3 separate regions of the Homo sapiens genome follow, and all the other regions are linked to region 1. A link means that fine-mapping ties the variant in region 1 to the plasma level of a protein whose gene starts in the linked region. Region 1 holds a variant in brackets. A gene starts in each other region. All regions are shown on their forward strands.

Region 1 (4,000 bases):
GCTGTGGCCACAAGCCAAAAAATACATGCAGCCACCAGAAGCTGGAAGAGGCAAGGAACCGACTGTCCCTAGAGCCTCTGGAGGGAGCACGGCCCTGTCCTGCCTACCCCTTCGCTTCTACCCAGTGATACCAATTTCAGACATCTGGAGTCTGGAACTGTGAGAGAAGAGTTTTCTGTTGTTTTAAGCCACTAAGTATAGGTAATTATTAATGACAATTTGTTATAGCAGCAATAGGGAACCAATACAGAGTCTCACTGGGCTAATCCAGTGTCAGCAGGACTGTGTTCCTTTCAGGAGGCTCTTAGAATCTGTTTTCTTGACTCTTCCAGCTTCTAGAGTCTGTCCACATTCCTTCACTCATGGCTTCTTATGTCTTCAAGCCAGTCTTTGACACTTTTTAGATAGTGATTCTTCTGCTTCCCTCTTCCGCATTTAAGGACGCTGTGATTGCATTAGACCCACCTTGATAATTATCTTAAGGTCAGCTGATTAGCTACCTTAACTCCATCTGCATCCTTAATTGCCCTTTGCCATGTAAGGTGTAACATACTCAGATTCTGGGGCTATGACAGAGACATCTTTAGGAGCTGTTATTTTGCCTTAAAAAGGAGGCAATTATTTAAGTATATAAGGTGAATAGTTAGGTCTTTCTCTCCAGGAAACCTAACTTGTCATTCAGCGGTTACCATGCATGGGTATCTTCTTCCAATTGCCTGAGCCAGCCAGACTTTCATGTTTGAGCATTCAGATTGGGCTTTATTTCTCAAGGCATGTGGCAAACCTCACAATGACACTGAAAGGTTAAAAAAAAAAAAAAGAAAAATACAGTTGCTTACCAGAGATACTGATCGTTTACTTCTGCTAGGATCAGAAGAGATTTTAAGAGCTTAGTGGCAAATCCTGACCTTGGAAAGCCCTGCCTTACCAGGGGTCTTGTGCAGAGGTGTTATTGAGATCAGACACCAGGTTGCAGTGATATGTATCATTTGTGCTCTTGCCATCTACCGCCCCCTGCCTGCCACCAAGCCAACCTCAGGAGGTCTTTGCCCAGAGGCTTGGCAAGATGACTTTCCACAACTCAGGGAGGTTTTAAGGAGAGGGATTAGCATTGACTCTGATACCTTGTTGGTTTGTGTGTCATAACTTAAAGGTCCATGCTTCTCAGCTGGCCAGTGGTCACACCTGATTGGAAGGTGAAAAGACTTTGCGTTCTACTTCCAAAAGTTTTCACATTTGTCACACTGTCCTAACCCTATCAGCTTTGTTGCTATCATTGTAGTGAGGCCTGCCTAGGGATGATAAGTGAAGGATCCCCAAGGACACATTAAGACAGCACATAGAATCAGAGTTTTCAGACTCTTGGCCGAACTTTTTTTTTTTTTAAGCAGACCAGTATTTTCCAAACTTTGGACTTAGTTTCCACCATATTCACGTTACCACCTATACTTGTTACTTAACATATTTTCTTCAGTTTATCCTGCATCAACTCATTTATTTTAATTTGGTCTCATTCTAATTGACAGCATATAGCAGCTTATGAATTTGATGTGCGTATGCATGTTGCAACAAATACTTAACTATTAGTATGTATGCTACGGTGTAAATGTACCACACTCAGAAAAAACCTTATTAGACCATCCTGACTGTTTAGGAAGCTTGGTGCCCAAGGGAAATAGTCTTTGACCATCAGCCAGAATTTGGTTAGTTTCAGCAGATAAGAGAGTAGCTGGTAAGCTACTTAGGAACATTTTAAGTAGAATATGTGAGAAATGAGGATAGGATATGCCTTTATTCCCAGCAGGCAAAAACATGCATTTATTTACTATAGTTGTTATAATATAAATAACATAGATGCATATGTATACCAGAAACATGGTCTTTATCCCATTTGTGGATAAAAGCTAAGGAAGAACTTGTATTACTTATGTATGAAATGCCCAAGGGAACAGAGCCTAGACAAGTTCTGAAACTTAATATCTAGGGAATGTAAACATTTAATAAAACATTACCTTACCCACCTATGTGGCCTTTCTTGGCTGGACTTCTAAAAAATTTTGTTTTTATACCATATTCTTTGTTTTAGGAAAGCATTATCTTACTCCCAGCCTCTGGGGAAAATAAATAACCGAGAGAATCAATAAGGAGATGCCCCAGTGTTGTGGTCAGTGTCTGTTTTTCCCCAGTGTTCTGGGAGCAGGGTTTCCTGGTGTTCTGTTA[C/A]ATCAGCATGAAGGAGGCCTTGTGCATGGGAAGACCCAGACCTCACTTCCCCTGTGTCACTTGCAGTCACTTGTCTTCCTCTTTTGTTTTTGTGTATTTACCGGGGATGAGGAGGTGGATGGGCAGAGGGATTGTATATAGAACTGGCTTATTTTTTTTTTATTTTTTTTTTTTTTTTTATTTTTTTTTTTATTTTTTAATTATTATTATTATTATACTCTAAGTTTTAGGGTACATGTGCACATTGTGCAGGTTAGTTACATATGTATACATGTGCCATGCTGGTGCGCTGCACCCACTAACGTGTCATCTAGCATTAGGTATATCTCCCAATGCTATCCCTCCCCACTCCCCCGACCCCACCACAGTCCCCAGAGTGTGATATTCCCCTTCCTGTGTCCATGTGATCTCATTGTTCAATTCCCACCTATGAGTGAGAATATGTGGTGTTTGGTTTTTTGTTCTTGCGATAGTTTACTGAGAATGATGGTTTCCAATTTCATCCATGTCCCTACAAAGGACATGAACTCATCATTTTTTATGGCTGCATAGTATTCCATGGTGTATATGTGCCACATTTTCTTAATCCAGTCTATCATTGTTGGACATTTGGGTTGGTTCCAAGTCTTTGCTATTGTGAATAATGCCGCAATAAACATACGTGTGCATGTGTCTTTATAGCAGCATGATTTATAGTCATTTGGGTATATACCCAGTAATGGGATGGCTGGGTCAAATGGTATTTCTAGTTCTAGATCCCTGAGGAATCGCCACACTGACTTCCACAATGGTTGAACTAGTTTACAGTCCCACCAACAGTGTAAAAGTGTTCCTATTTCTCCACATCCTCTCCAGCACCTGTTGTTTCCTGACTTTTTAATGATTGCCATTCTAACTGGTGTGAGATGATATCTCATAGTGGTTTTGATTTGCATTTCTCTGATGGCCAGTGATGATGAGCATTTTTTCATGTGTTTTTTGGCTGCATAAATGTCTTCTTTTGAGAAGTGTCTGTTCATGTCCTTCGCCCACTTTTTGATGGGGTTGTTTGTTTTTTTCTTGTAAATTTGTTTGAGTTCATTGTAGATTCTGGATATTAGCCCTTTGTCAGATGAGTAGGTTGCGAAAATTTTCTCCCATGTTGTAGGTTGCCTGTTCACTCTGATGGTAGTTTCTTTTGCGGTGCAGAAGCTCTTTAGTTTAATTAGATCCCATTTGTCAATTTTGGCTTTTGTTGCCATTGCTTTTGGTGTTTTGGACATGAAGTCCTTGCCCACGCCTATGTCCTGAATGGTAATGCCTAGGTTTTCTTCTAGGGTTTTTATGGTTTTAGGTCTAACGTTTAAATCTTTAATCCATCTTGAATTGATTTTTGTATAAGGTGTAAGGAAGGGATCCAGTTTCAGCTTTCTACATATGGCTAGCCAGTTTTCCCAGCACCATTTATTAAATAGGGAATCCTTTCCCCATTGCTTGTTTTTCTCAGGTTTGTCAAAGATCAGATAGTTGTGGATATGCGGCATTATTTCTGAGGGCTCTGTTCTGTTCCATTGATCTATATCTCTGTTTTGGTACCAGTACCATGCTGTTTTGGTTACTGTAGCCTTGTAGTATAGTTTGAAGTCAGGTAGTGTGATGCCTCCAGCTTTGTTCTTTTGGCTTAGGATTGACTTGGCGATGCGGGCTCTTTTTTGGTTCCATATGAACTTTAAAGTAGTTTTTTCCAATTCTGTGAAGAAAGTCATTGGTAGCTTGATGGGGATGGCATTGAATCTGTAAA
Region 2 (4,349 bases), not on the chromosome of region 1:
TAGTGGAGACGGGGTTTCACCATGTTGGTCAGGCTGGTCTCAAACTCCTGACCTTGTGATCCACCCGCCTCGGCCTCCCAAAGCGCTGGAATTACAGGCGTGAGCCACCGCGCCCGGCCAAATAATTTCTTTTCTAAAAAAGAGCAGTCTGAAAAATCAGCCGGCAGACATAGAAAAGCAAGCTGGAAGCTTGCTCGGGTGAATGCCGGCAGCTGTGCCAATGGGAATAGGCTACCTGGGTGCCAGGCGTGTTCAACATGCAGGCTTGCTCCATGTTCCCTTTTCTTTATCAACCACGTGTACGGTAAAGGAACAGGCAACATGGTCCTGGCCAGGTAGAGACCCCATCTGCATAATAAAATATTAGGGTGGGCAGCCAGCTTCTTTGTACTCTATGTAAACGGCACACCTGGTCCAACTAATCTTTGGGCCCTTATGTAAATCAGATATCACCACCTAAAGCTCATCTATAAAACCCCGTGCATTTCACCATGAAACTGGAAGACCCACTTGGGAGCCCCCTCTCTTTGCAGGAGAGAGAGCTTTTCTCTTTCTCTCGCCTATTAAATTTCTTTTCTTTCTTTCTTTTTTTTTTTTTTTTTGAGATGGAGTCTTGCTCTGTCACCCAGGCTGGAGTTCAATGGCACAATCTCGGCTCACTGCAACCTCTGCTTCCCGGGTTCAAGCGATTCTCTTGCCTCAGCCTCCTGAGTAGCTGGAATTACAGGCATGAGCCACCACACCTGGCTAATTTTTGTATTTTTAGTAGAGATGGGGTTTCACTATGTTGCCCAGGCTGGTCTCAAACTCCTGATCTTAGGTGATCCACCCGTCTCAGCCTCCCAAAGTGCTGGGATTACAGGCATGAGCCACTGTGCTCGGCCTAAACCTCTGCTCTAAAAGTAATTTTTTGTGTGTCTGCATTTTATTTTATTTTATTTTATTTTATTTTATTTTATTTTATTTTATTTTATTTTAAGACAGAGTCCCACTCTGTTGCCTAGGCTGGAGTGCAGTGGCACGATCTCGGCTCACTGCAGCCTCCGCCTCCTGGGTTCAAGCAATTCTCTGCCTCAGCCTCCGGAGTAGCTGGGATTACAGGTGCCTAACACCATACCACACTGGCTGATTTTTTGTATTTTTAGTAAAGACGGGGTTTCCCCATCTTGGCCAGGCTGGTCTTGAACTCCTGACCTCGTAATCCACCCTCCTCAGTCTCCCAAAGTGCTGAGATTACAGGTGTGAGCCACGGTGCCCGGCCATGTCTGTATTTTCTATTTCCTTGGTGTGAGGCAATGAACCTCGGGTATTACCCCAGATGGATGACACTGCTTCAATATCTGCCAGTCACTACACTTTGTTATCAGTGGGATTACATCAACTGGAGCCCATTCTATCTGCTTGGAGGCCAGGCCTGAAGATTCAAGGGGTTGACACCCTCTAGGAGCAAGCCTCAAGTCAACCCATGACTGACAGTAGGTGGGATATAAATACCTCAGCTCCCTCACCCCTCGGTTGGAATAACTGAAGAGTATGTTCCATGCCGCTCCCCAGTCATCCCTGGGGAGGTTAAGTTCCACTTTCTCACCATGTAACTTATTTGAAGACACACCCAGTATTGGCTCTTTGCCTTTCCTGATTCACTTTCTCCTCCCCCAGCTGGTGCTTTCTGGGGCCACCTTCTTGATAAACTACTTTTGCTAGAATCCTTGTCTGAGGGTCTGCCCTTGTGAGACCCTAAGATGTTACCAGAGAGAGTTAGGAAGCTGGGAATGGGGTGGAAGTGTTGCTGTATAATCGTCAGACAGAGTTGAGATCTGAAGGAAAATAAGATGGTTAAAGCTCTTGACTCTGGAATCAGAGGGTCCTGGGTTCAAATCTCAAGTCTGAGAGATCTTGGACAAGTTATAACTCCTCTGCAAGTCTCAGTTTCCATTTTGTTGGTGAATAGAGGGAGGGAGGGGAATTCCTACTTTACAAGGTTAACATGATAATGAAATTACACTTTGTTGCCAATGTGCCTAGCACACTGCCTGGTACATGATGGTTGTGATGGCTGTCTTTATACGGGAGACTGGGAAGAGACCCTAAAGGCTGAGATTTGCTTCACTGGAGGCAGGAAGCGGAAGCTCCTTTATTGGGTGCAATGAAAGAAGGTGTTGAGAGATGGGAGATAGATGTTGATGGGAAAGAAAAAGGGAGAGACCATGGGAAGGAGAGAGAGAGAGAATGATATACATTAGGCAGATTAACTTCTCTTTATTGTGAAGAAAGGGGGAAATTAGGATTTTCTAGGCTGTCTTTTAGTTGCAGCAAGTCAGCAAAAAGGGCTATGATGACCAGGCAGCATTGAGCAACTCTGACTCCGCCTTCCCCTCTTCGCACACCTTCTGGTTACTGAAAACCCAGCGTTAGTAGAAAAGTTTCTTTTCTTTGAATGACAGAACTACAGCATAATGCGTGGCTTCAACCTGCTCCTCTTCTGGGGTGAGTGTGAGGCTGAATGGGGGGCTAGGGGAGGCCTGGATTGGAAATAGACTTCAGGAGAAATGGGAGGGCCATGGATGGTCCAGCCAAGAGATCATAAGTCCAGACTGGATGCTGCAAACACCTTCATTCAGGGAACCTTTGACAAAATTCCATAGCTCAGGGAAGTCCATCTGTTAGGATAGATTTTTCTCTATAGTCATTCATTTGACCTGAGCAAGTCCTGTGTGTCAGGTGCTGTTCTAGGCACTAGAGGATATAGCAGTGAGAAAAAAAGACTAAGTTCCTGCACTCTTGAGGCTGATATTCTAGTGGGTAGGAGCAGACAGGAAAGAAGGCACAGATGATCATAGCCCACTTAGCACTGCTGTAACTTCTTTAAACATAGAGTGTATCCAATTGTCACAACATTTCTATGACATTGGGTCATTATTAGTCCTATTTTGCAAATGAGAAAACTGAGGCAAAAGAGATAAAATAATTTTCCCAAGGCCACTTAGTCAATAAGGGGTAGAGGCAGGATTTCAAGCCAGACAGTCTGACTTCAGAGTCTGTAAGCTTTTCCACTATACTATGTTGCCCCAAAAAATAAGTAAACATAGGAATTTCAGGTAGTGATAAGTGCTATGAAAGAAGTTGTTATAGAATGTGGTCGGGAGTTATGTTGAAGGGAGAAGTCTGGGGTTGAGGAGGGGCAGTTCGAGCTGAGTCCTGAAGGATGAGATAGACCCTTCCTGTGCTCTTATTTCTCTTTCTTCAGGTGTCAGTTTGTCTCAGCCTTGTTTATCTTCTGTGTTTCTGGTTTTTCTTCTATGTCTTGTGTGTTTTGGTCATTGGATCAAATTTAAGAATGGAGGATATTGGGGACATATTCTAAGTAGCAAGTATGGGTTTCCTCTGCTGTTGAAGAGTGGATCTGAATACCCTATTTTACCAAGGAGGAAACTGAGGCACAAAGAGATTAAATAACTTCCTCAAGGCCACGCAATCATTAATTGGTGAAGCCAGATTTTTAAACCTAAGCACTTTGACTTCAGACTTTGTATGCCTAAACAGCATGCTGAATTACCTCTAAAATAATTAATGAATGAGTAGAAGAATTTTTGTTAGTAATAATAGATAGAATTTGGGAGTTTAGATCTGTGGGACTTGTTGACTGGCAGGCTACATTAGAAGAAATAGGTGGCCTGTGGACATCAAATGTAGGCATGCAGAGTTGTTATTTTGGGGTGTTGGCAATGGTATTAACCATTAACACTCCCTATTCTGCCCTGAAGATAATCAGCAAAGAGTTGTGATAATGATAGTGATGATAATGATCATGATGGTGGTGGTTATAATAGTGATGATGAAAATGGTGATGATGATGGTGATGGTGATGATGATGATGATGATAATGGTGATGATAGTGATAATGAAGATGATGGTGATGATGATGGTGTGATAATGACCATGAAGATGGTGATGATGGTGATGATGATAATGGTGATGATAGGGATAATGATGATGATGGTGGTGATGATGGTGTGATAATGACGATGAAGATGGTGATGTTGGTGATTATGGTGGTGATGATGATGATGGTGGTGATGGTGATAATGGTGATGGTGATGATGATAATGGTGATGATGGTGATAATAATGATGATGATGATGGTGATGATGAAGATGATGATGGTGATGATGATAGTGATAATGATGGCGATAATGATGATGGTGCAGGAGACCTAAATGCTGCAGGGCTGCATTGCCTTTAAACACTAAAAAATGGGCAGGGCGCAGTGGCTCACGCTTGTAATCCCAGCACTTTAGGAGGCTGAGGCAGGCAGATCATGAGGTCAGGAGATCGAGACCATCCTGGCC
Region 3 (4,000 bases), not on the chromosome of region 1:
TGGGATTACAGGCATGAGCCACCACGCCTGGCAGTTTATTTATTTTTCTGAGACAGGGTTTCCCTCTGTTCTCCATCCTGGAGTCCAGGATCATAACTCACTGCAGCCTCCAACTCCTGAGCTCAAGCAATCCTCCCATGTCAGCCTCCTGAGTAGCTGGGACCAAAGGTGTACACCACCATGCCTGGCTAACTCTTAAATTTTTTTTTGTAGAGACAAAGTTTCACTATGTTGCCCAGACTGGTCTTGAACTCCTGGCCTCAAGCAGTCCTTCCACCTGGGCCTCCCAAAGTGCTGGGTTTATAGGTGTAAGTCACCATGCCTGTCTTTCATCTCTATGTCCAATGACATATTCAGCCTTATCCAGGTTCTATCCCCAATGCATCTCCAGCTCAATCTCCAGCCTCATCTTGCACCCTGGCCCCAGCCTATCACAAGCTTCCCGCCCCACTCCACCAGCCCTCACTCACAGAGAGGCGGCGCCAGGCCTGGAAGGTCAGGGAAACATCAGGGAGCTGCTCTCCCAGGGGCAGGAGGTACAGGTTCACTCCTGGCAGGTGAGATTCCGCCTGGGGGGCAAGGTCTGTTAGTGGGGGCCAGAAGGGATTGGGGGTCTGCCCATCTCCAGCGCCAGCTGCATTAGGGGGACTTACAAAGCGGTGGGCCTGGCCCCGAACCTCGGAGAGCAGCTTCCTGGCGAGATGCAGGCTGACTGTGAACTCCCTCCGCAGCTCCTGCAGGCTCAGCTGGGGCCTCCCTGGGGGCCTTGGGAATCCCCAGACACCAGCTTGAACCAGGAGCAAGGGAAGCAGCAACAGGCTGAGCCCTGGAGAGATGGGAAGAGGGTGGCAAGACAGGGAGAGAGCTTGAGAAGGAAGGGAACATGCCTTTTCTGAGCCTGTGCTAGCTGTGAGCACGGTGCAGGCACTTTGACCAGCATCATTCCTCTGCCTCCTCAAAACCACAATGGAGGCTGGGTGCGGTGACTCACACCTGTAATCCCAACAATTTAGGAGACCGAGGCGGGCGGATCACCTGAGGCCAGGAGTTCAAGACCAGCCTGGCCAACATGGCGAAACCCTGTCTCTACTAAAAATACAAAAATTAGTTGGGCGTGGTGGTGCATGCCTGTAATCCCAGCTACTCAGGAGGTTGAGGCAGGAGAATCGCTTGAACCTGGGAGGCAGAGGCTGCAGTGAGCTAACACCACTGTGCTCCAGCCTGGGCGACAGAGCCAGACTCTGTCTCAAAAAAACAAAACAAAACAAAACAAAACAAAACCCCACGATGCAGCCAGCACGGCCCCCATATGGCATCTCCGCATGGTGTGCCCACTTTTGCAAAAAGACCAGAAGCCTGATCCTTTTTTTTTTTTTTTGAAACAGAGTTCTGTTCTATCACCCAGCCTGGAGTGTAGTGGTGTGATCACAGCTCACTGTAGCCTTGAACTCCTAGGCTCAAGTGATCCTCTCGCCTCAGCCTCCCAAGTAGCTGGGATCACAGGGACACACCACTGTGCCTAACTGTTTCTATTTTTTTGTAGAGACAGGGTCTCACTATGTTGCCCAGGCTGGTCTTGAACTCCTGGCCTCAAGAGATCTTCCCGCCTCAGCCTCCCAAATTGCTGGGATCACAGGCATGAGCCACTGTGCCGGGACAGAGACTGGATTTTGACCCCCATAAACTCCCTTGGCCAAATGCCTTTTTCAGTGAGCAACCTGCACAACCACGTGTGGCAGCCTCAGTGCTATTGTTCTCCCCAATTTGCAGGTGAGGCTCAGTGAGGTTGACTTGCCCAAGGTCAAATAGCCAGAAGGTGGGAAGCCAGGACTGGATTCCAGGTTTTTCCAAATGCAGAGCCCATGGGTTTTCCCCAGAGAATGCAGAGGGAGGCAGCCATCTGCCCCAGGAGTGGGCACACCATGTTCTGGCAAGGATTCTTTGGGCTCAGCCAAGCGGCTCTGATGGCTTGAACTGGCCATGAGGTCCCCAGGGATGGGCTGGCAATGCCAGAGGCTCTATTCCAGGGAGTCAAAAGGACAGGTTTGTCCAGTTTCCACCACGGCAGGTGGATCCTAGCAGGGTAACCTGCCTGGGGCGAATCCACAGTATGGGAGCTTTTTTTTTTTTAAGACAGATTCTCACTCTGTCACCCAGGCTGCAGTGCAGTGGCGCGATCTCGACTCACTGCAACCTTCACCTCCCAGGTTAAAGCAATTCTCCTGCCTCAGCCTCCTGAGTAGCCACCACGCCTGGCTAATTTTTATTATATTTAGTAGAGAGGGGTTTTGCCGTGTTGGCCAGGCTGGTCTCCAACTCCTGACCTCAGGTGATCCGCCTGCCTTGGCCTCCCAAAGTGCTGGGATTACAGACATCAGCCACTGCGCCCAGCCCAGAATGGCTGAATTCCGAGTGTGCTTCCTGACCTGTGTTTTCCTGGAAAGAGGGGCAGCGGATGGGCGCTCTAGGAAGAGGGCAGCATTCATCAATTTCCCCCTCAGGGAGAGGAAATCTAGCAAGCACAAGAGTTACACAATTCTCCTCGAAACACAAACCAAAACTGGCCCGAAGTCCATCCTGCTCTCCCTTCTCTCCCTGCCTCTTCCCTGTCCTCTCTCAATCTCTAACCCCTGGGCTCTGCTCTTCGAAATGTCCCCTGATAAAGGTGAAGGGGAGCTTCTAGGGACATCTACCTCCCTCGTGGGCTTGCAGATGTGGTGGGCGATGCCTAACGTAAGATCTCTGGCATTCAGACTCCCTGGTTTTGGGGCCACTCGGACCCTCTGACATCCTGGAGACTTAAGGCAGAGTGGGGTTCTTCCTAGCTCAATGTTGGGGACAGGGTGGGTGCCCCCAGGCCCTGGTGGATCAAGCCCAACCGTAAGTGAGCTGTGCCATCTCCAACCTGACCTCTGGAGACCCCAGACCCCCTCCTTACCCTCTGCAGCTGATCCTGGGTCATTGGCTCTGGCCTTTGAAGGCTCTGTCTCCATCCTCCAGCCTTTGGTCCCTACCTGCCCTACGTGGCATGTTACCTTCTCCACTGCCTACTGCTCTGGTTCTAGCCCCTGAGTTCTGCAGCCACCAGCCGCAGATTGGACCTCTTTCCAACATCAAACTAAAGACCTTTGACCCAGTGAGGCTGCTGACATCTTGGTCCCAGTGCTCCACTTGTGCCAGCACCTCGTTCTGCTCTTCCTCCAGCCGGCCCCATTCTCAGTCTTAGCCAAGCTGTTTGGCTTCTGCTTATTCACTCCAAACTCTTCATTTATCTGCCTAGACCTGGTCCTTGTCAAATTGCTGGTCCAACCCTCCCCATTCCCACTAGCCAAGGCCTCCTTCTCATCCTCTGCCCAGCCCTGGGTCAGACCACCACCCCACTGCCCCAGGCCCCCACCCAGTCATGCCAGCCTCCCTTCCCATGCAGCAGCCAGCCGAATCCTCAGTCTTGGCCAAGTTGCTGCTCTCAGCTCTCGACCCCCCATCTGCACCAGCCAAGCTCGTCCATTCTCTGCCCAAACTCAACCAAGCCCCCCACCCCTGGCTTCAAACTCACGCCAGCCAAGGTCGCCTGCCGTCTGGCCCATGGCGGGGCCCAGCCTCTTTGGTCAGCCATCTCCTGGGTAGGGGGGGTCTTATACTGGGGGCTGTGCCCGGTTTCACTTTCCGTCCTGCTTGTACTTTCAGCTTTGTGTTCACTCATTCTTCCCTCTCGCCACCCCTTGCTAAAATGGGGAAATGTAATTTCCCTTCCCGGAGGGGGTGGGAGGTATGATGGGGGGTGACGGGAAGCTGGGGTTTCGGGACATCCAAGCTCCAGACTCACTGCTAAGCTCCCACGTCCAGCCCTGTCCTCAATGTCCCATGCTTGGGTGAGCCATCCAGCCCTATTCACTGGTTGATCCCAGAGTCCCAAACCCCCTCCTGATTCTCGGCTCTGCCACCATCATCCTAGGGTCTACTGTCCTTCCAAAGATGGATAGCCAGGTAAGGGGATTGC

Alleles and levels. Alleles are on the strand shown, and positions count from the first base shown. The strength of an association depends on the size of the effect and on how common the allele is.
As copies of A replace C in region 1, the plasma level of the protein whose gene starts at base 2,427 in region 2 goes down (moderate association).
For the plasma level of the protein whose gene starts at base 3,610 in region 3, allele C in region 1 goes with a higher level than allele A (moderate association).

The links. PIP is the posterior inclusion probability: the model's chance that the variant is causal. The UK Biobank Pharma Proteomics Project read protein levels with antibody pairs (Olink). The fine-mapping took linkage between variants from a reference panel, not from the people measured, so its PIPs are less certain.
Region 2: ADGRE1 starts here. The variant in region 1 is fine-mapped to the plasma level of the ADGRE1 protein (UK Biobank, PIP above 0.99).
Region 3: it holds the start of IL27, and the variant in region 1 is fine-mapped to the plasma level of the IL27 protein (UK Biobank, PIP above 0.99).

What each region holds. Positions count from the first base shown.
Region 1 is chr2:134,206,771-134,210,770 of GRCh38, forward strand. It overlaps a transcript of MGAT5 not described here. Among named protein-coding and RNA genes, the nearest start is that of MGAT5, 45 kb to the right of the region's middle. RefSeq lists a silencer at 1-142. The variant C/A (reference allele first, on the strand shown) is at 2,221.
Region 2 is chr19:6,885,153-6,889,501 of GRCh38, forward strand. ADGRE1 (adhesion G protein-coupled receptor E1) reads left to right here and starts at 2,427. Exons shown (of 21, transcript NM_001974.5): 1 at 2,427-2,487. The coding sequence starts at 2,457. RefSeq lists an enhancer at 2,421-2,480.
Region 3 is chr16:28,503,225-28,507,224 of GRCh38, forward strand. IL27 (interleukin 27) reads right to left here and starts at 3,610. Exons shown (of 5, transcript NM_145659.3): 1 at 3,557-3,610; 2 at 654-826; 3 at 471-569. The coding sequence starts at 3,587.